2 separate regions of the Homo sapiens genome follow, and region 2 is linked to region 1. The links come from fine-mapping of genetic effects on gene expression. A gene starts in region 1. The other region holds a variant in brackets. All regions are shown on one strand. Distances are between the middles of the regions. Region 1 holds the start of MYLK4 (myosin light chain kinase family member 4). Region 2 overlaps MYLK4 (myosin light chain kinase family member 4).

What was found. PIP is the estimated chance that this variant, and not a neighbour inherited with it, causes the effect.
Region 2: its variant is fine-mapped to the expression of MYLK4 in subcutaneous fat (TwinsUK, PIP 0.95).

What each region holds. Positions count from the first base shown.
Region 1 is chr6:2,745,317-2,757,457 of GRCh38, reverse strand. It overlaps MYLK4 (myosin light chain kinase family member 4), which reads left to right and starts at 6,536. Exons shown (of 13, transcript NM_001012418.5): 1 at 6,536-6,722; 2 at 8,052-8,322. The coding sequence starts at 8,164. RefSeq lists silencers at 329-623, 4,669-4,963 and an enhancer at 329-623.
Region 2 is chr6:2,679,507-2,691,647 of GRCh38, reverse strand. MYLK4 (myosin light chain kinase family member 4) reads left to right here. Exons shown (of 13, transcript NM_001012418.5): 4 at 2,692-2,797; 5 at 6,072-6,165; 6 at 6,243-6,352; 7 at 8,486-8,627; 8 at 11,357-11,427. Among named protein-coding and RNA genes, the nearest start is that of LINC01600, 51 kb to the right of the region's middle. The variant A/G (reference allele first, on the strand shown) is at 7,541.

The sequences.
Region 1 (12,141 bases):
GGGTCAAAGGGCATGACCAAGTTGCCTTCCATAAAAATCAGAGCAATATGCATTTTAACCAGAAGTATACAAGGCTGCCTATCTGCCCTCTGCCTCCCAGGCTTCATTCACACTGAAGATGTTTTCCATACACTAACTGGTGCTTATAATGCTTTTTACCATTTTACGAGCTGCCATGGTCCTTTTGTACCCCAGATTCTTCAATACTTTTGGACATGTAGAATAAAAGCTCGCGACCTATTATGAGTCATTACATAATAGCTCAACTTATTTTCTACCTAAAAATACAACTTTTATCTTTAATTAAAAAAAAAAAAAGCACACCTCTGAGAGTTCACCAAACTGCCCATCAGCCATTAATGCACGCCCTATGGCAGTGTTTTTCCATGTGGAAAATTTCTCCTCTCAACCTTACCCTCTTGGGACAAGGAGGCCAACATTTGGTCAGAAGAGCATGACTTGGACTTTGCACTTCTGTAATTTCATGCCTTGTTACTATCATAAGCTTATTCTAGCTCTGAAATCTACTTCCAATTTAGAAGGTAGGAGAGCATTCCCGAGAACATAAACATAAACATTGTTCCTCCAGTTCCTAAAAGTAGAAAATGATGATTCATGCTGTAGCATGGGATTTTTAAATATTGGAAATGAATATCCTTAGACTTTCCTCAATTGTTTAGAATGGATAGTCACAACAGTAGTATGAATTTTACCTTGTAGCAAGCATTTTATTTTGTGTTTTCTCATGTTTAAAATTTTTAGGCTTAAAGTATCAGTGGGAGGGGGTTACATATGTGGTATAGGGAAAGGGCGGAAATAATCCTATGGTGTTGGTTTGGAAATAGAAATATATCAGTATGAGTGTGAACTCATGATTTTTTAGAAAGAATTATATTTCCTCTCTCTGTCCTCTGAAGTGTCTACAGTGACACCCCCGTAGCAAAAAACACTCCTGGTGCCCAGGGCTTGATTTCTAAATACCATTCTGCCTAAGAGGAAGGAGGGCTCCTTGAAGAAATGGCAGAATTCAGAAACAGGGTGAAAACAGTACTGAAAGTAAGGAAGTACTCAAAAAATAATAATGACATATCAAAAGTACATAGGAGCCAGCTTGAAGGCACTTCCGTTGGCCAATATGGGACAATTTGAGCTTCAAAATAAAGAATATAGGGAGTGTATGTCCATTTTTAAAAGGCCATAAGCTCATCCTGATACTAAAGAGAGTGAGGTTCAGGATGGGGATGGAAAGCTCTTCTTTATAAAAGAATACCAATTAATAAGTATAGAAGAAATGGCAGAATTAGAAAATCATTTCACAGTCTCTGTGGTAATCATTGATTCTCAAGAATAGATACTGAGAAACGTTGGGTGATGCATTGTTGGGGAACATGATACCTATAAATTCCCACAAGTTATTTATCAATCACAAAAATAAAAGGGTTAGTTTTACATTTGAGAAGTCTGGTGGACACAACCTTAATCAGATCACCAAATTTAATATCACGAATAATGGCACAAACCGACATCATGTGCCACCTTTTGTGATGTTCTGAAAAAGATACAGTGTCACTTCTGTAGTTTTCATGCTCAGGTATAACCTGGTTCCAAGCATGAAGACACAATCAGGAAATTAGAATTGAGAGACATTTTATGAAACAATTTGTCCAAAGACTTCAAAAATATCAATGTCATGAAGGATTACAAAAAAGAGAGAGAGACTAGGAAGCCTCATCTCCACAAAAAATACAAAACTTAGCCTGGTGTGGTGGTGCCTGCCAATAGTCCCAGCTACTTGGAGGGCTGAGGCAGGAGGATCACTTGAGCCAAGGTCAAGGCTGCAGTGAGCTGTGTTCACGCCACTGCACTCCAGCACAAGCAACAGAGTGAGACCTTGTCTCAAAAAGTAAAATAAAATAAAATAAACGGAATGACCATTTCCTAAATAGATAAAAGGAGACTAAGAAGACATGGTGATTAAATGCGCTATGTAATTTTTGAGTAGATTCTGTTATGTGAGAAAGTGTCTTTTTTCTCAAGAAACATACACCAATTCATATAGGGGTAAAGTTTCATGAGATATGCATCTTACTCGCAAAAGAGAGAGAGAGGGCAAACATGGAAAATGCTAACATTTGGTGAATATGGGTGAAGGATGTATAGGTATTCATTGTACTATGCTTGCAAATATCCCTTAGAAAGTTTAAGGGATATAATTAAAGGAACAATTTGTGTAGCCACTGTAGAGGTAATAAACTGAAACTTTATGTAATATTTCTGAAAAATATTAATTTTTAAATGATCCAATCCATATTTTTATCTAATTTTTAAAACCTGTTTTATTTTCATTTTTGTATTTCGTAATACTTAGCTAATTGCTGTCACTTAGAAGTTTTAGTGGTCTAATATCAAAATTTCCTGTAAAGAAATCTGGATATTCCATAACATCATTATCTTTCTTGCTCAAAGTATCCTATCTCCAAGCAGAAAATAAAAGATAGAAATTACTTTTAAAATTACTATTAATTTTTCTATTAATTACAAAATCTTATATTGCATGATATTCATGCCAGGAGAAGAAAAGCGTGAGACTCTTAACTGTCTCCTGCTCACCATTCCTTTTCTTTGGCCCTAGGTGACCTGGCAAGTGTGGAATATAATTTATGTTTCCCTGGATCCCAGCCTTGGTCACTGGGGACAGATGACCACAAAGTGTTCAGTTTTTTCCTCTCCTTTTAACAAGCTACTTTTTGTTAATCATATTATTGGGTTTTCTTTTTCTTAATGACTCTATTGAAGTATAATTTACATATTATAAAATTCACCCATCTCAAGTGCACAATTCTGCATTGTTTTAAGAAACTGAATGAGTTGTACAGTCATCACTACCACACATCATCGGGTAAGATTCTGTTTACAATTAACCCCCATTCCTGCACCCAGCCCCCGGCAACCACCAGTCTGCTTTCTACGTCTATAGATTTGTCTTTTCTGAGCATTTTATACAAATGGAATCATACAATCTGTGCTCTATGTTTCTGGCTTTTTTTTTTCAATTAGCACAGTGTTTTCGCTCATCCATATTGTAGTAGATACCAGTATTTCATTCCTTTTAATTACGTAGTATTCCATTTGTATGTGTATACCACATTATCTTTTCCCAGTCTCCAAATCATCCGATGGACATTTTGGTTGTTTTCAGTTTTTGGCTATTGTGAATAATGCTGCTGTGAACATTCATGTGCCATGGTTTCTGTGTTCATATGTTTTCATTTCTCTTGGGTAGATACCTAGGAGAAGAATTTCTAGGTCATATGGGAAATAACTTTTTAAGAAATTGCCAACCTCTTTTATAAGACACCTGTATCATTTTATATTCCCATCAACATATTTGGTGAGGGTTCCAGTTTTTCCACATCCTTGTCAACACTTGCTTTTCTCTGTCTTTTTTTTTTTTTTTTTGGTAGAGATGGGGTCTTGCTATGTTGCCCAGGCTGGTCTCAAACTCCTGGACTGAAGTGATCCTCCTGTCTTGGCCTCCCAAAGTGCTAGGATTACAGGTGTGAGCCACCACACCCAACCTATCTTTTATTTTTTTCATTATTATTACAGCTCTCCTAGTGGGTGTGAAATGATGTTTCCTTGTGGTTTTAATTTGCATCTCCCTGATGACTGATTTTGAGCATTTTTTTTCATGTGCTTATTAACCATTTTTATATCTTCTTTGGTGAGGTCTGTTTTAATCTTTTGTCCATTTAAAAAACTGGAATGTTTTGTCATATATTATTAAGTTGTATATGCTAGATGCAGTCCTTTGTCAAATATGTGACTTCACAGTATTTTCTATACATCTGTAGCTGGTCTTTTCATTTTCATAATAGTGTCTTTTCATTTTCCTAATAGTGTTTTTTCAAAGGCAAACGTTTTGAATTTTGAAGAAGTGCAATTTATCAATCTTCGTTTTTATGGGTCGTATTCAGTGGTGATTTTTGAAAGTAAGGAAGTTCTATTGTAATGTGGGTAACAGGGATGCAGTAGCTTTTTATTTGCATTTGGGTATTTGTACTGTTGCTCCGCTTTTGTGTGTAAACATTCAAGAGGTCTTGTTCTGGAAACATTCAGAACGCTGTGTAGAAACAAAAACTCTTAGTGTAATCCAGCCGGGTTTCAATGCCAACCCGTAGACAAGAGCTGTCGACGATGTTTCTTCATGTGGCTCCTTTGACAACACAGTCTCTTACTCAGCTAATGGAAATGTCCCTTGAAAAAAATCAAGGGATTCTTTTCCATGGCTCTGTAGGGTGCTGTTTTCCTGATGTTGGTATTTTTTAGAGAAGTATAACTCCAAAATATGGAAATACTGGAAAAGTGTTCCTGGGCCTGCTCATATTCCTCACTAATGAATTTTTCCGGGTATAAGAGCATCTTTAAGCATGCAGAACATTTTATGGGTATGGACTTAGGATCCTGAGGCTAGGCTGATAGACCAGAATGAGTATGCATGTATAACCTGTTTTTTTGTGGTCAAGGGTTGTGCCAGCAGTGTGCTTGTCCTGTATGCCATCGGAAGCTGGGAACAGTGTGATGCAGCAGAACCAGACAATCAGTCACTTTTAGCATGGATTATTTTAATTGACTTGCTTTTTAGGGCAAGTAGACACAATTAAAGATCATTCTATCTAGTCATTAATCAAATATGTATTGAATGTATATTGTGCATGGAAATGTCTATATGTGGATGCCTTCCAAATTCTTATCTCCAGCCTACACCCCTCCCCGGAACTCCAGTTTCTATCTCCACAGCCTATTCAACTTGAACGTTTAATGGACTTGCCAAAGACTTCATGCCTGACCTTTCCCTCCAGAGTTGCCCTTCCCACAGCCGTCTCCATCTCAGTTAATGTTCACTCTGTCTTTCAAGTGCTCAGAAGAAAATATGCAAAGGTGTCTACCATCTTTCTTTCATACCCCATACCCAATCTATCATAAATCCTACTGATTCTAAATGTACTGTGGAATCCTGCATGGGATTCTGGAACAGAAAAGGGGCATTTGGGGAAAAAAAAAACCCAGCAACAATAAAGTATTGAGTTTAGTTAATAATAACGTTCACCATGGTTCATTAATTGTGACAAGTATACCATACCAACGTAAGATGTTAAAAACAGAGGATTCGGGGTGCAGGGCAAGGGGAACTCTGAACTACCTTTGCACCTTTTCTGTAGATGTAAAACTACTCTAAAAGGAAAAGTTTATTACAAAAAAATAAGCTAAGGAGCAGATTCTCCTGGCCTCTGGCTCACTCAAGCCTGTGGTTGGTTTGCTGGAGCCAACGAGATAGGAAGTCTGCTTTTGCGTGGTGGTGGTCCGGGTGGAGGATGTGGTTGGATCAGCAGCAGCCCACACACATCTTGCCTCTGGCAGGGCATTTGTTGCCTTATCAGTACTTCTACACAATTTAATTATACTAACAAAATTGGTAACCTCAAACCAGCTTAGTCTTTGTATAATACTTTTGTCAGATAATTTATCTCCACAAATTTATAGTTCCACTTCATTACTTTTGCTGAAGAACAAAGCTCTCCAATCTGAAAAATAACAAGCGTTTTGTGTTTTAAAAAAGATTTTGCTGTAATTCATTAATACTACATAAAATGGAAAAATATGTATTTTTATTTCACATGGAATGCATCGATCTGAATTAAAAATAAGGTTTTTTTTTTAAAAGAAGCAGAAGAGCAGCAGAGGCTGGTGTTAGAATGGGGCATAGAGGGGCTAACACAGGCTCCAAATAAGAGGTGACAATTGGCCAGGCCCTGAAAAATTGCAGGGTTTTCAAGACTGCAAAGTCCAGCCTCTGGGCAATCAAAGTTTTATGCCACTTCAGTGAATCTAGGGATGCACTACTGTGAGAGTCGGGCAGGTGGGTTGAAATTCCCCTTTCTTGGTCTGTGCAGAAAACTACGGATGAAGTCCTAGTGTTGCTTAAGGAGAATTTATGAAAAATTTATTCCTGTTTCCTGGATGCCTGTGCCTTTGACCTTTCCCTAGAGCTAGAAATGGTTGGAGACTTTGCAAACATCTTTAAGAACTGAGAAAAATAAAACAAACTTGCTAACTGCTTTCAGAAGATCTTCTATATTGCAGTTGGATATGCTCAAAGCGTAAGATGGGCAAACAGAGGTGGCTGTGGGGTTGCCACACCTGGCATTTTCCCTACTGGGGGAAATTTAATGAGCACTTAAATAATCCTGAGTCTGAAAGGGGCAGAAGGTCCAGGCAGATGATTGCCGAGGACAAATCTAGCTTTGTAAATCCGAGAGTATTGACACAATGATACGAGGGAAAGGTGAAGGTGATATTTCATCCAGTGTTCCCGGTTCATCCTCTCCTTACCTGACCTCTGAAATGGAGCCATTGGCCTTGAAAAGCCTGGTGTCTAAAATTAATATTCTTCCCCATCTGACTAAGAAGGCAACAGCTGAGCAACGTGAGATCAAGAGCCATATTAATTTAAACAGGGGCTGAAAGTGGCATTTGAGAGAGAAGATACTTCCTCTCGTAGTGGACACTTGTCTTTTCAGAAGATTTATACGACTGAGAGTCAAAACTTTTACCAGAGACTTTCATAGTCAGTTTGAATTCTGCAAAATTTCTCTTTATCTTCTGGAATGTATGCTCTAGACTTGGAGTGGCTCAAGCTCTTCGATGTGATCCTATCAATGGTAATTATCTTTGTTTATTGTTATAACCTCTCAAATCTCCTCCCCTTTTTTCTAAGTTACCTTCAATAACAAATTGTACCAAACTTCAGGTAGAGCTTAATGTTTAATATTTCTTTGCAAAATTATTGTATCTTAATCCTAAGCTTTTGTTTTAATACATTAATTTTGTGTGGCTTCCTGATCCAACTTGAGTTTCATCTGCAATTAACCATAGTATTTTAGTCGTAGTTTGCCTTAGAAATAGCCATGCATTTGTTTCCTTATTTTAATAATTTTTTCAGGGCAATTTGAAAGAATGCTAAGAATGATCTGTAATATATCTGTAGAGCTCTGGTTGATAGTATTAATATTTGCATTTTTATTTGTTTGAATGTAAGCTCTTTATGTGGATAAGTATAATTTGTTAGAGCAGTGAATTTTAAACACTTTGGAACTCAAGAGTATCATTTTACTATAGGAACTGACAAAACAAAATATTAAGTTTTCTGATGAGAATCACAATACGGTTTTTAAGCGGAGAAAATGCTCGAAGAGGCGCTTTTCGGAAAATCTCCACCAGGGGGCCTCAGTTGTCAGCCATGCGGAACTAGCACAAATTCAAATGTCTCTCCCTCTCCCTGCCTCTCTATGCAATCAAGTGATGTGTACATATAGACATGCGTATATGTCTCTAGTATCAAAGCGAATTATGTATGCTGCATTACTTCATTTGCGAGGAAAGTATTTTAAGGAGAGTGAAAAGACTCTGAACTTCTCGGTACATAGCTGTTAATGCAGATGCAAGGAAAGGTATCTGGGAGTGCTGTCCACGTGAGAAGACTGTAAGGAAATAAATTTCTTTTCACAAATAAACACCACACATTTTAAGGCATAGGTAGAGAAGAGTTCTGGAAAAGGACTCATTCGGGAGCGATCCCTCTGCAGAGGGAGGCCAGGGGAAGCAGAGAGACCCCTTCTGTGATAAGCCCTTCCCACGGGGCTGCAAAACCTGCGGTTCCAATTAAACCCAAAGATACTTTATAATTTACATCCAAGCTGGCCACTTGATCTACGGCTTGTTTTGTGCAATAAGGAGCATATTTCATCACCAGTGAATCTTGACATTGCTTCTTACTGTTTGCTTTTGTAGTTTTAAAGTGAAAAAATTTTTTTTCCTTTTAAAGTTCCAATGTTGGAAACTCAATATGAATGTTAGTATTTCTTTTCCTGATTTTGGATCCTCTCTCCAGTTTAAACAGAAGGGACTTCCAAATTCTCACTGGTCATTTTCTCAAGAAGTCAAATGCATGAATACGTGATGAGAACTTTTTGTGTTTCCTTTCTTTGCAGTCAAGAGAAAGAAGCACTGAAGAGTCATAATTGTGTCCTGATTTATAAATCGGAGACAGAGGGAGACGAAAACCACACTCCAGAAAGTAGCTTAATCGGACTCACTACTAAGATGTTAAAAGTGAAGAGGCTGGAAGAATTCAACACGTGTTATAACAGCAACCAGCTGGAGAAAATGGCCTTTTTTCAGTGCAGGGAAGAGGTGGAGAAAGTGAAGTGTTTTCTGGAAAAAAATTCTGGGGACCAGGATTCAAGATCTGGACATAATGAGGTAATCATGTTCTAATTTAGTCTCCTAAAAAGTATTCATTCTATCTTATCTTTTCTAATGTCATGGAGCCGCTTGTGAGTACAATTAAGGAAAGTTTATGAATAGGCATCATTCCACTTTGCTTCAGTGAGAATTGTGTGTGTCGACTATACAATTGTGTTTGGTAAATAATTAGGAGGCCTTTGAAACTGCATTTCTGCCAGCAGTCGACTTCACTTTTAGTTAGTGGCTTAGGAGTTATACAGCCAGCTTGCAGAAATGAAGAAGAATCCTTTAGCATGATGGATTTGGGCTTGAAATTCAGAAAAGGGCTCTGAGAGGCACACTGTTCTGCAGAAAGAAGTTTCTCCTTTTTCCTTCAGATCTTGAGTTCCTCACGCGGTAGACAGCAGAGCTGTTGATAGTGAAGTCCAGAGAAGGGACAAGAAAGACTTGCTGATGGCACGACGGTGGGGCTTGTACCCTCCTCTGTGCAGAACGAGAGTTCTGAGCCCCATTCCAGCTGCTCGTTCTTGGGAAAAATATTAATTTAACCAAGGGCTTGCCACATCTGAATTAGTGAGATAATAGCAATTGTGAAAATTAAGTGTGATCACGTCTGTAAAGCACTCCGCCTAGTATCTGTCACTAGAGTCAGCATTTAATATGTGTTAGCGGCAGCAGCAATTACCTCCCCTGCCTTGGCCCAGTCAGTTCCTGCCCATCATCCGTTGGCTCCTTGCCCGGTGGGAGCATCAAGCATTTTGCCCGTGCCTTCATTCCAGCACATGTGGTGGTTTTGAACATGTTGATCACCTTTCTCTAGACAAGGCTCCTTAAGGTTGGGAAACCTCGTGTTATTTGTTCATGTTTCCTCAGTTGCTTTCCTAGTAACGGAAACAAATAGGCACCAAAAGTGTTTTTGGAATGCACAGATCTATTTAAGTGAATTCTGGTTGAGGGCTGGGAACCATTATTTTTGATAATCAGAGCAAGTGATTCTTATCAGGCAGGTTTGGAAAACATCCTTCTTTGCCCAGCTACTGTTCTAAAAAACACTATTCAGGTAGGAAGGGCGTTTCTAACAATGCAATAGACAATGAAATAGAGAGATTGTATATAAAAGGTCTAGGAGGCTTTTTATTGTAAGTGAATAAGAAATGACAAAATGTGCTGGAGAGAATAAATGAATCAGATTGAAACATTTTTTTGAGACCTCTGCTTTCCCCATGAGTTCAATATAGACCAAGGAGAAATATCTACAGGCAAAATTAAGTGAGACATGACTTTCTCATTAGGGTTTTCAGTGGTACAAACAGGATAATTTTTTCTGTTTATTAATTTCGGTAGGACAGAGAAGACAAAATATTCTTCTTGGAGAACTTTGAAATCATCAACTAACTGTAATAGTTTATATGAATTTCATTATCTTTCAAGTACTGTTTTTCTCCAAAATCTATGATACAATTTTTATAAATGGGCAACACTCTAAAGAGTGAGATAAGCAGGACACATGGCTCATACCTGTAATCCCAGCACTTTGGGAGGCTGGGGCAAGAGAATCACTGGAGGCCAGGAGTTTGAGACCAGCCCAGGTGACATGGTGAGATGTCTATTTCTACAAAAATAAAAAAATACAAATAAAATAGCGGGCATGGTGGCACACATCTGTAGTCCCAGCTACTTGGGAGGCTGAGGCAGGAGGATTGCTTGAGCCCGGGAGTTCAAGGATGCAGTGAGCTATGATCACACCACTGCACTCCAGCGTGGGCAACAGAGGAAGACCCTGTTTCTGAAGATAAAAAAAAAGAGTGCGATAGTGCTAAGTTGGAACATAAATATATGTAGGGATGTTACTTTTGTGCAGCCAACTACATCCAGAAGTTGATGATTTGGAAGTTAAATATTTTTAGGGTGTTTTTGAGGGAAAAATTGAGACTGCTATTTAACCCCTAGAAACCATCAGAGAATGTCCTTTATAGTAAGTCTCATATCCCTTCTGTAACTTGGGCCTCCTGGCTTCCGTCCTGCAGTTGACACCCTGTGGAAGGTGGGAAGGAATCACTAGGAGCTCCATGTGTCCCATTCAATTTCTTACTTGTAAATGGAGAAGGGCCTAGAGATGTCTGCAATAAATTTCCCTGTCTCTCTCCGTCCACGTGGAGAATGGATAGGTGCATGTGTCAGAGGCACAGAGTTCTCCTTTCCATGGCCTGGAGCCCCTGCCTGCCTAGTTGGTGGGTGCCAGGGCAGCCAGCAGGCTTGGCAGCGGGTGGGTGGAGAAGGACATTCCAGCAGCTCAGATGTCTTCAGGTATGCAGACAGAGCTAGATTAACACGTCTTCATCTTCTGCTGGGGCAGCAGTAAATCTTTAAAATGCCACGCTTTTCTCTCCAGGGACTATAAAAACATGCTTGTCGATTTTCTCCACCTATTCCCCTTTCTCTCTCATCCCTTCTCTCTTTGAGGGGATTAGCACGGCTAATCATAGTAGAAACATCCCCTGTGGTGCACTGGAAAGAATGTACTCTGAATTTCAGACTCTGGTGACATGAAAGCTTTGTTCTGGAAGCTTGCAGTGCAGTTTCTTTAGAGTCTGGAACTACTCTCCAGTCCCAATAGGGGAAGAATTTTATATAGATTTAACAACTTATATTTGTTAAAATAGTTTGATAAAACTCAGATTCTTTTTGTTTTCCTGCTCTTAATCAGATTTTTCTATTTCTTTTATTTTTCTTCTACTGAATTCATTTTTAGCCATCTTCCTTCTTTCCTCTATGTTTTACTGAGTTTATGAAACACTTCATAGCCTTCTTTTCTTCCTTCTACTTAAGTAGTTCTTGTTCTTTTAATTTTTCTTTCTTTCTTTTTTTCTTTTTTTCTTTTTTTGAGACGGAGTCTTGCTCTGTCACCCAGGCTGGAGTGCAGTGGTGCGATCTCAGCTCACTGCAACCTCCGTCTCCCAGGTTGAAGCAATTCTCCTGCCTTAGCCTCCTGAGTAGCCGGGATTACAGGCGCACGCAACCACGCCTGACTCATTTTTTTTTATATTTTTTTTTGTATTTTTAGTAGAGACGGGGTTTCACCACATTGGTCAGGCTGGTCTCAAACTCCTGACCTCATGATCCACCTGCCTTGGCCTCCCAAAGTGCTGAGATTACAGGCGTGAGCCACCGTGCCCGGCCTTGTTCTTTTAATTTTTCTTGTTTGTTTGTTTCTTTTTTTTTTTTTGAGACAGCTTCTCACTCTGTCGCCCAGGCTGGATTGCAGTGGTGTGATCTCAGCTCACTGCAGCTTTGACCTCCCTGGCTCAAGTGATTCTCCTGCCTCAGCCTCCCAAGTAGCTGGGACTAGGCATGCACCACCACCCATGGCTACTTTCTGTATTTTTTTGTAGAGACAGGGGTCTCCATGTGTTGCTCAGACTGGTCTTGAACTCCTGTGCTGAAGTGATCCTCCCACCTTGGCCTCCCAGAGTGCTGGAATTACAGGCATGAGCTGCTGTGTGTGGCCTATTTTTCCTACTTTCCTTTTTATTCTGTTTTCTAATGACTTTTCTTATTCTATTATGTTCCAAAGGCTGTTCAAAATCACCTAAATTCTACCTACTGTGTAAAATTTTAAAAGTTTTCAGCAGATAACCATATGCCATAATAAACTAGATCTAAACATACGTACACGGTGTGGTGTTGAAATCAAGTAAAATTTACAAGACCAAATTGGTCTGACTCATATGAGTGATGAGCTCGATAGCTACTGTGTCCATACCATTAAGTTATAAATGATGAACAGGTTTCATAACTATAATTAGTATTATTTTTGTACAGTTGAATCTGGGT
Region 2 (12,141 bases), 66 kb after region 1:
GACAAGAATTAAATAATGACTAGATTTATCCGTAAGTTAAAAACCTAAATCTGAAAAAGCTTACCTACTCCATTATAAATAATAAATTGCCTATTTTCCCAAATATTGTGAGGATGAAGTAAGACATAGATTATTGAATGACTTTCTTTCTCAACTACACAGTTTCACTTATAGATTCAGGTAATATTATAGCCAATTAAAATGAACTACTCTAAGTTATGAGTAATCACATATCACAGTATCTATTTGGAACCAAAAGTATCAAACCACTTGTGTGGTCTTTTTTAGGGATTTAAAACATAATTCTTAGTTCATTTTTTAATAATGTATCTGAAACCTCATCTTGGAGAAATTTAATTTTCCAAGAATTAAGCATAAATATTAATGATTGCTAAGAAAGAAACTTCAACACTGCCAGATGTGTTCAGTAAGGTCGAGAGCTGCTGAGAAATGGAAATTAGGTCAATTCTTCCACTGATAAAGGTTTAGTCTCACTGCCGTTAAGATTCAGAGAGATTGGCTGGGTGCGGTGGCTCACGCCTGTAATCCCAGCACTTTAGGAGGCTGAGGCAGTTGGATCACGAGGTCAGGAGATGGAGACCATCCTGGCTAACACGGTGAAACCCCGTCTCTATTTAAAAATACAAAAAAATTAGCCGGGCGTGGTGGCGGGCGCCTGTAGTCCCAGCTACTCGGGAGGCTGAGGCAGAGAATTGCTTGAATCCGGGAGGCGGAGCTTGCAGTGAGCCGAGATCGCGCCACTGCACTCCAGCCTGGGCGACAGAGCGAGACTCGGTCTCAAAAAAAAAAAAAAAAAAAAAAAAGATTCAGAGAGATTATTGCTTCTTTTATCATGCTATAATTTAATAATTTCTCTCTAAGGAAAGGAAGTGAAAAAATGAAGATCAAATTAGTTAGGTATTCATAAAATGACGGCTTTTGTTAAGTTCCAGTGGAATAACTTGGGGTCACGATTTGGCCAGTGGTGAGATTCCCTGGGACCCTGGTTCTCTACACCCATAGACTTGATGGGGAGCGTGCTGCTCCATTTCCTCCCCAAGCCCCGAAATGGTCACCTCTATCACGGAGCTCACGTCCTCGTCACCAAAACACTGTTTTAAGAAAACCTTCTTAAAGAATTTCCACCATCTGAATGTTTTCTTCTTGAAACTTTGAGAGCTGCAACTGGACTTTACTTCCCAGGTGTGTCAGCAGCATAAGGGCCATTTCTACCCCCACGAATCCCTGGAAGTTCAGCAGTAGGATCCATTTTCTGGAATGCTGACCAGACAGAGTGCCCGGGCAGCAGTAAGCGTGGAGTGGCAGAGGAGCGCCTCGTCAACGAGGACAGCAAAAGGCGCAGAGTAGACATAGTCGGCACAGGGGAAGAACACACGTGTCAGAAGACACAGGCAGCCAGGCAAGCTGAGGAGCTCCCGGGGCCGACTCAGGGAGTCTGCTGGGATGAAGACCTCCCGAGGGCAAGACGGCCTGACCCCACTGGGTAGGAAATGGCTTTTGTATGGGCCTTTTAAGGCTTTTTAACCTTCTCCAGCAAGCATTACAGACTAAATTTCATTTAGTCTAACAGCCTGCAGGAGATATAATGCCATTTCGATGCCGCTTGTGTATTTAACTCCCTCTATTAATCTGAAACAGTGAATGTTATCAAGATGCTTCTCTGGTGACTTCAGTTTTCAGCATATTTAGGCTCTGAGAGGTGATGTCCATATCAAATCAGATTCCCAGAGATTTATATTATCTGAATTTTTAAAAATATTAACACTTGGCAGAGTGCCTGGAACAAGGTAAATGCTCAAGAAACATATGTCAAATAAATGTAGAGTGTTTTGAAAGCAAAGCTGTTATTTACTTACCTCCCTTTGTATTCTTATTGTATGCATGCAGTCGCTGCTTAGTAAATGAATTAACGAAGAATGAGCAGGTTCATGGCAAGCCAATTTCAACAGCAGTAGTCATGGAAAGGTGAAAGAATACTGGGAGGAATATCCCTGAGTAATTCTGTATGTTAGAGCTGGTGCTGATGTGGACGAGCGTTTAAACACTTAAGGTGGAAGGGGAGAAAGTGGGAGAAATTTGATCTCTGTTGAATACACACTTACCTGGTTTTATTGGGTGTTTTATTTCCAGCCAGCCAGGAAAAATTCATCTTTGTGCCTTAAATGTGTCTTAAATAAAGTCTAAGACATTTTGGAAAGTAATATATAATATCAAGCATTTCAACAACATGAAGAAATGTTTCATTTTTCTTTTTTGTCTCTGATATAATTAAAATAATGGATTATATCAGTAATGCATTTTAAAAATGAATCAAACAATTTCTCATGTTTGAATTTGAATGGTCTCAGGCTTGGAAGTATTACCTGTTTGGACTGTGTTGGGTTGGAAATTTTCAACTATTTTGACATTTCTAAAAGTGATCCTGAAGATGGTATGGACAACCATTGAGCCGCCCTGACACTCTTTCTCAGAGGTGTCAGGATCACCTTTATGAGTCACAGCTCATAATCTCAAGTGGAAATCTATATCCCTGGATCATTAGGAATCAAACAGATGGCTCCTTGTATTTTATTATTAAATGAGCACATTTTTACTATGAGGCCCAGGCTTGCTGCCTTAACGAGGTCAGACTTCTTGACAGATTGCCCTTCTGTTTCTCTCACCTTCTAGTTGACATCCCGGCTCCTCCGGCCCCATTTGATCATCGTATTGTGACAGCCAAGCAAGGAGCGGTCAACAGCTTCTATACTGTGAGCAAGACAGAAATCCTAGGAGGGTGAGTAAGGCTGAATGTTAATATTCTCTCAACAAAAGAAGAGAGCGTGCAAATGACTTCGTAAATGTCTGCCTGTCTTGACCTGAGAACTAGAAACATTAGAAACAAACATTTTAAGAAACAGTAACCATTTCTGAAAATTGTCACTGATGCCAGAAAGGTTAATGTGGTGACTAAACTCCACATTTATTATCTGCTTTACTTCCCATGTTGTAATGTCTAAAAGAAAGAAAAACCCATTGTGAGTCACCAGAAGGTTGACCAGCTGTCCAAAGCCATAGTGCAGCCTCCAGGAGACAGAAGATAGAAATGAGTCAACAGCGTGTAGTTTTTGTGGCCTGTATTAGGTCTTTCTGTCATTGCTGCTGGTTTTTCATTTATGTTGTTACTATATTAATTACTATTATTCATTTCAATTGATTACTTTGCTCAGCAAATAACTTATTTTAGGGACATTTAAACACACATTCTCCCTAAAGAAGGAAGATTAAAGGCCTTGCGCGGTGGCTCACGCCTGTAATCCCAGCACTTTGGGAAACTGAGGCGGGCAGATCACTTGAGGTCAGGAGTTCGAGACCATCCTGGCCAACATGGTGAAACCCCGTCTCTATTAAAAATACAAAAATTAGCTGGGCGTGGTGGCGCATGCCTGTAATCCCAGCTACTCGGGAGGCTGAGGCAGGAGAATCGCTTGAACCAGGGAGTTGGAGGCTGCAGTGAGCCGAGATCAGGCCCCTACACTCCAGCCTGGTGACAGAGTAAGACTCTGTCTCAAAAAAAAAGAAAAAAAAAGAAAAGAAAAAAAACCAGAAGGAAAATTAAAGTCCATCAGGGACCCGCTTCCTGCTGGGGGTGGGGAGAGGGTGTTCTTCTTCGTTTACTTCTTTCACAACCCCCCGTGATATCTTGTAACTCAAAGTCTAAATTATAACGTTTGCTGCCATCGGCATGTCTGTGTAAAATAGGAAGAGGAAAGCAGAACATCTGCACGTATACATACAAAATGTACTCACCAACACAAGGAAAGCACGCATCGCTACTGCAGTTCAGGCGTCTGCAAGTGGTCTTCAGGGAGTCCTTGATATTTGTGAAGTCCCTTCCTCCTCTTCCCACTCCGTATTTCTTTGCCCTGTGCCGAATGGAACCACCTGGACTTTCCCTTCCTGATCTGGCTGATCTCATAGAATGCCCCATGAGACTGCGGGGATGGGCTGAGGGAGAAACAGGAATTCCACAGCATGAACTGGCTCCATGGAAGCCTGAGGTATTTGGGCCTTCAGGGACATCAGTGGCAAGCCAGCAACTATTTCTCTAACCGAGAATAGTTATTTGCAGAAGAAGCTTTGAAAGAATTCCCAGGGTTTGTGCTGTTTTTCTGGTCAAGGTTTGTCAATTGCTCCTTTGAAACTTCCTTTCTGTCTGTTTGGGCACCATGGGATCTTCTCTTTGGTACTGCAGTCTAGACCAGCTGCCCGTCAGCTCTCGTTATGGGCTTCACCAAAATTGGCAGCCGTAATTCACTCAGCAAATAAGTGAGAGGAGCATGATCAAATGTGCGTGGATGCCTTCAAAATGCAGACATCACCAAGTGCTGCACCTCCTTTTAAGTGGTAGCAGGTTCAAGATGTAGCAACTTATCTTTTACTTTTGGCAGAAATATTGCAACATGCCAAGGACCACTGGATCCCAAAAACCCTGCCCACAGGGGCAGGCCCCTGAATTTTCCTGGGAGTTCGTCTCCTGCCCTGTGGCCTTGAGGGTATCCATCATCCCTGCTTGCCATGTTCAATGAGCATAAGGTTATCACTGTGTTGAACCAGCATGAATCCTGGGAGTTGGCCTCAACCTTCAGGGCCCTTGCACAATAAATCAGGGGAAAGAGTCAGAAGGTTGAGGGAGCCGGGAAGTCAGACAGTGATGGGCACCACTGCTGGCTCAGGAGGTTCTGCGGCCATTGCTAGTGAAGGGGAGAAACCATTTCCATAACAACCAATTAAGAGGTGGCTGGGGCTGTGTCCGTGTGTTCCCATAGAGACTCTATCTGGAGCAGAGGTTGGAATTGAAGTCACGCCGTGGCTACGTTTATGGTAATCCTGTGTCATTCTCCAAGATTCATCTGCCTCTGTGCTGGGTGTGCAGCCCCACAGTAGGATGCAGCGGCCGCCAGTGCCCCTGCATCTGCCCAGCGTTGCCATGACTTTCATCGCTGAAGTCCTCTGCCTTGTCATAGGGCTTGCCTCGGGTTCACTGTGTTGCTAGGGAAGCTGTTCCTCACTCCCTACTGTGACATCCACCATTGCAGAGCAGGGACACGTGTTCTAGCTTATTTTACTAAATAAGAAATCAAACTAAGCAAATTAAATTTAAAACTGCTCACAAGTGTGCACATCTGTATGTGATTACGTAGGTAAGAAGCTGTCTTGTGTTTATATTCAAGCTCATAGGTGACTTGGCAATATGCAGTCTTGACTATATGGATGTATATGCAGTATTGTTACATATGCAGTTTCCAAAAATAATTTTATATATCTGAAGGTGGGCTCTCTTGTTCATATGCTGGCAAAGCCCAGCTCATAACATTCATATGTATTCAGAAGGATTCTGCATTGTCTGTAAAGGTGGTTCTCAAATGTGAGGGTGCATATGAATCACCCAAGAAATGTGCTGAAATGCAGATTCTGGGGCCTACCCCTGGATTCCTGCCTCAGGAGGTCTGGGGTAGGGCCCAGAATCCTGGATTCTTTTTTTTTTTCTTTCTTTCTTTCTTCTTTTTTTTTTTTTTTGAGATGGATTCTTGCACTGTCGCCCAGGCTGGAGTGCAATGGCGCGATCTCGGCCCACTGCAACCTCCGCCTCCTGGGTTCACGCCGTTCTCCTGCCTCAGCCTCCCGAGTAGCTGGGACTACAGACACATGCCATCACATCTGGCTAATTTTTTGTATTTGTATTTTTAGCAGAGATGGGGTTTCACTATGTTGGCCAGACTGGTCCTGACCTCGTGATCCTCCCGCCTCGGCCTCCCAAAGTGCTGGGATTACAGGTGTGAGCCACCGTGCCCGGCCGAGACCTGCTTTCTTAACAGCTCCCAGGTGATTCTGATGCAAGTGATCCACACACCACATGTTGACAAATACTGCTCTAGAAGTTTACTGAAAGAACTCCTCAGAGGGCTGCTCATCCAGACTCAGCAGGAGAAATACTGGGGCCACTGTGCGCTGTCCACTCGGCAGCTGACCACAGGGCCTCATGCTACGCCGCTTCCTCTTTTTGGCAGAGGGCGTTTCGGCCAGGTTCACAAGTGTGAGGAGACGGCCACAGGTCTGAAGCTGGCAGCCAAAATCATCAAGACCAGAGGCATGAAGGACAAGGTACAGCCTGTGGGAGGTGGTCCCCTCCCTCCCCGCCCCATCTTGACCACACTAATGCACTGTTTCCTGCTTCTCAGGAGGAGGTGAAGAACGAGATCAGCGTCATGAACCAGCTGGACCACGCGAACCTCATCCAGCTGTACGATGCCTTCGAGTCTAAGAACGACATTGTCCTGGTCATGGAGTAGTACGTATCCCCTCCGCCCCCTCCCTGACCTCCCCAAGGGCACTCATGACCGTGACCGTGCCTCAGTAGCTCCGTCCTGCTGTAGCGGGACCAGAACCAAGCTCGCCCCCGCAGACTCTGATTCGCGCGGATCACACAATCACATCAGTTCTAGAAGGGAAACACTTGGGGTTACAAATCTCCATATGGGATTTTATTGCTAAGAAGTAGTGGGACCAAGTAGATCTAGCTTTGTATCTACGCTGTTTGTCAAAAATCAAGCTTAAATATTAGCCAGGGCAACCTGGAGGAAAGTGGTTTTTGAGCTACATCTTACTTTCAACATATTCACTAATACAAAGGTCATGTCAACAACTGGTGATGATTAGGGCTAAGAAGCTTCCATTTAAACTCACCTTTATAAAAACATAAGGACTGGTTAGTTAGAAACCGAGTACAGTCATTACTTGGTATCGGAGAGGGATTGGTCCCAGGATCCCTGCAAATACCAAAACCGGAGGACACTCAAGTTCCTGACATAAAATGGCATAGTCTTTTGCATATAACTTATGCCTATCCCCCCGAGTACTTTAAATAATCTCTAGACTACTTACAATACCTGATAAACTGTAAATGCCACATATACAGTTGTTATACTGTATTTTTTAAAAATTTGTATTATTTTTGTTGTTGTATTGTCAATTTTTATTGTTTTTTGGTCAAACATTTTGATTTACGATTGTTTGAACCTGTGGAAACAGAACCCACGAATAGGGAGGGCCGACTGCAATTCCAACACTGAATCGATATTGTGATTCCGTTTTGTTTTTCATTCCTCAATAAGGCATTTTGAATAAAAAGTATAGTATCGTGGTCCTCCCTTGCCCACACTTTCACTTTCCATGGTCTCAGTTACCCAAGGCCCCAAAATATTAAGTGGAAAATTCCAGAAGTAAACAATCAACAGGTTTTAAATTGCACACTGTTCTGAGTAGCCTGATGAAATCTCCCACCGTCCCGCTCGGTCCCACCCAGGACGTGAATCATCCCTTTGTCCAGCGTCTCCACCACTCCCTGCGGTTAGTCACTTAGTAGCCGACCGGGTCATCAGATTGACTGTGGAGGCATCGCCATGCTTGTGTTCACGGAACTATCATTTGACTTCATAATGGCCCCAAGACACAAGAGTAGTGCAGCTGGCGTGTTGTT[A/G]TAATTGTTCTATTTTACTCGTAGTTATTGTTGTTAATCCCTTACTGTGCTTAATTTATGAATTAAACTGTATCGGAGTTATATGTCTATAGGAAATAACATAGTATATACAGGTTCAGTACTATCCACAGTTTCAGGCATCCACGGAGGGTCTTGGAAGGTGTCCCCAAGGATAAGGGAAATTACTGTGTCTAGCACCAGCCACAGAGAAGCACTTTATCCCTGAATTCAGTCTGGAGACTTAGAGGGCTGAGACCCTGACTACCTTCAGTCAGGGCTTGGAGTTCCCCTCCTGGAGTTCTTAGGATCCTCTTTCTCTTCAACATCTTTAGAACATGATACATGTGGGCTCACCCCAGAGCTGAAGACACTGAATAAAGGGGCTTTGAGGGCCGGTGTGGTGGCTCCCACCTGTAATCCCAGCACTTTGGGAGGCCGAGGCTGGTGGATCACTTGGGGTCAGGAGTTCGAAACCAGCCTGGCCAACACAGTGAAACCCATCTCTACTAAAAATACAAAAATTAGCCGGGCATGGTGGCGCATGCCTCTAATCCCAGCTACTTGGGAGACTGAGGCATGAGAATCGCTTGAATCTGGGAGGCGGAGATTGCAGTGAGCCAAGATCCTGCCACTGCCCTCTAGCCTGAGCGACACAGCGAGACTCCATCTCAAAACACACACACACACACACACACACACACACACACACACACACAAAAAGGTGGGGAGTTGGCTTGAGGATTTCCATTTGTGAGATTAAAGGTATATAAAATACAGGCCTTCAAGATAAGAATCATCTAAGTAAGATAGTAAAGAAGGCAGAGAAATAACTGCACATACACCTTTCAGAAGAGGTAGCAGAACTTGCACGACAAGTCACTACGAGAAAAGCACATGGTGGTAAGGAAATCGGGACTGAGGGTTTCAGTCCTCTTCCCTCTGCAGTGTGGATGGTGGGGAGCTGTTTGACCGCATCATCGATGAGAGCTACAATTTGACGGAGCTTGATACCATCCTGTTCATGAAGCAGATATGTGAGGGGATAAGGCACATGCATCAGATGTACATTCTCCACTTGGACCTGAAGGTAAGGGTGTTTTGTATCCTGTGAGACGTAAGCCCTTCCCAGCTCTTGCACAGTGGGCCCTGTCTGCTATTATATGCCAGCTGGGGAAATTGGTACAGTCATTTCAGAAATGAATAAACATCTGAATTGTTACCCTCATCTCCTTATTCTCAGCTTCTGTCACTCCCTAATATTTGCATGTTCCATCTTCAGGGGTGATATTCAGATTCTTGTAACTTGCCTGCGTTAAGGAAATCTATATGGCAATGGTTTCCCTAAAAGTTTAGAATGAAAACAGTCACCACCACCACAGCGGTATCCACGTGGTAGCCCTCTCATCAGGACAAGTAGGTGAGAGGATTTTAGCTAACTCAGAATTCCCTAAGTAGTAGTCAACCTTTCCAGGTCTCCAAGAATCGCCGGCAGCTCCTCGAGTCACTCAGGAAGCTCCAGACTTTGGGACTTGTTTTTCTGTGGGTTTGCTGCCCTGTGGAATAGAATCCTATGGAGAATGCAGCAGAGGACAGTCGGAAGGATGGGGCCAAAGTGCTAAGGAGAAGAGAGGGTGGGGTGGGCACCCCACTGCCAATGGTGGAAAGCACACAGAAGCCAAGCCGCCTTTCTTTCTCCTCCTATTGATTGCCCCTTCCCTCTTTACCTCTCTCATGTCTCATTATGAAGTTCCTAGAATCGGACTGTATGTAGTCTTAGTTACAACCAATAAAAGACCTAGGCCCAACAACCCTGATCAAGTCCCATATTGGGACTAAGTATCATAAAGTACGTCTTGTGTGGCTTGGTCATTTTCTCATTTCCCTGTTTGCACAGCGTGACAGTAACATAAAATATACAATCTATATAACATCCCATCTATTGCATTCACTAGGGATTGCATAGCTAAATAAATTTAGCCTCCTGAAATAGGTTTCCATGGGCCTCTCTTCCTATAACTTGGCTTCCCTCACTGTCTTGATTTATGTGCCTTGCCTTTCCCATTCACTTTTGAGCAGGAGGAGAGCAGGAGGAAGTGGTTTATAAAATGACAAAGTCAGAGGCTAAAAATCATTAGCAAAACCCTCACTATGAACTGAGTTTGATAATGCATGCTTTCATGGAGCATTTTCATTGAATGTAGATATTCTGCAGATATCCCTACAGGGATTTGATTGGCAACTGGAACTAGGAGCAAACCTATTGTAAGTCAAATGACTCCATATGAGGCTTCATAACATTGATTGAGGACCTGCAGTGGGCAGTTTTAGTTATGGCTTGGATGCAGAGATCATCATAAAGGTGACAGCTGGATGGGTCCTTAAGGAGCTGCTTTTCTGAAAGCTCCTTGGAAGGAAAAGGGCCAAAAATATTGAGTGATTGTCAGTATGTGGGGGGAGATTATAGGTGACTTACAAACAGTCTGTTTTATATTTTTCTGTTTTGCAAAATTTATCCAATGAACATTGTTTAATTTTATCGTCATAAAAAGGCTAACTTATTGAAATGCCCTCAAAACGGTTTCTCTATATCCTGCAAACTTTTTGATGCCACAGTACTCCTTCACAATTGGACAGCTTTATACATGATCCATCAGTGATTTAAGCATGAAACCAAATGGTTCACGTAGCACCCCCTTCTCTATAATGACTTTTACTCACAAACATCTGTTTTAGAGATAGTTTAGAAAAGGGCTTCCAAAGATATTCTGCCCAACCAAATGTACTATTGAATATTGATAAGGAGACATTATGTCATTTCATAATGTGTTTCTGAATTTCTGATCTCATTGGAACCTCTTCTCCACCTGGACAGGTTGGGGAGGGGAGCCTGATCCCACTAAAGGCTGAGGAACGGGATCCTGGGCATTTGGCTTCTGGGATGGTGCCCTCCAGCTTGTAAAGAATTGGGACTGAGGGTTCTTAACTCTGAAAACTTTTTTTCTCTTTTATAAATGGCCTTGACTTTAAATCAAATCTCTTACTTTCCCAAGACCTCTGTTTTTCTACCCCAGTAAACATTAGGTGCACTTGTAAGGCATTCTGTGAACACTGAGTGGCTGCACTACACCCCATTTTCTCCCCCTGCACCCCAAGACTGTCAGGTCAGCAGGCTAAGGTCTTACCAGGGCCTAGCTCCAAGGGAACACTTAGTCAGGGGTTTTAGGCATTGAGACCAAACTCAGCAAAACCTTGGAACTGCTGAGACTGAAGAACGACTGGAGAGAAAAGCCCTCCTCTGCCGTGCGACTTTCCCATAGGCGTTGAGCAAAGGGAAGCTCTGGAGGCCGGAACGTTCACGTGACAGTGCATGTTCAGTGTGGCTGTTTGAATGGAGCAGGTCAATTCCCTTGGAACTCATCAATCTTGGGAAAAATATTTCTCCAAGAAGGGGAAATTCATACTGAATAATTTAGAGGGGCAGATGTCAGGCCTGAGCGGGCCTCCACAGCACATTTGGGAAGGACTGAAGCAACCTCCTTTTCTTGCTCCCCTCAAGGCCTCTGCCTGAACTCAGGCATTATGGTGAACTGTGAAGCCGTGCAGAGGACAGGCTGGATAATGCAGGGTTGGCAGGATACCCGCAACCTCATCCACCACATAATTAAAGGAGAAAGTACCCACACGGACAAGCCCGCCCCGAAGTGAAAGGCCTGATATGTTTTTTCTGAGCATCGTTGTATTTTTAGTTGTGGTTCAAGGACAATTTGAGTGAATGATGGTTGTTTTCATTGCTAATGTGTCTCTTTCTCCTGGCAGCCTGAGAATATCCTGTGTGTGAATCGGGATGCTAAGCAAATAAAAATTATTGATTTTGGATTGGCCAGAAGGTATGTCTATTTGGACATAGGTGTACGAATGGAGCTGGGGGACATGATGGTTGCCCTTCCTTTGCAAACATATATCTGATCTGCTCTTTGGTTTCATGATCTCATTTATAATTAATTTAACAAAAATTATGTTTGGCCTTAACTTGCTAAATTTGAGACTTGAGTGTTTAGAAGTTTCTATAATGCATGCAGTAAAAAGTATAAAAAATTAAAACCTAATACAGTGAAGTTTATTAAATTAGAAGCCATTAATTTAGCATTTGCAAGAGTTTGTCCCCTCTTTCATATTTGATCCATCTGTACAGAGAAGATTTACTTTAAAAATATTAACAACGTAAGCAAGTTTGCAAAGGGTTCTGGCACATAAAAGATTCTTCAGGGAACAAAGAGTTTACGTGGACACATTAACAATTCAGCACATTAACGACACATATAAAATGGATGTTGTAAATTATTGCAGTACTGTGTTTATTCATTTTACAGGCTTATTCACATCATCCCCATGTCAATGACTATATCAGTTTTCCTCTTGTCATCTTCTGTAATTCAGATGTTCTCATTATTCACAGCAGCTTCTCCAACAACTGGTTCAGCTTTTAAGGTTTCCTAGTATGAATTTTGACTTTTAAATTTTCTGGGGCCTCTTTACAAGTTTTTGAGCCTCTTGCTTGATTGTTTGATTTCCTTCAATGTTTGTTTGTCTGAAGTTTGCTG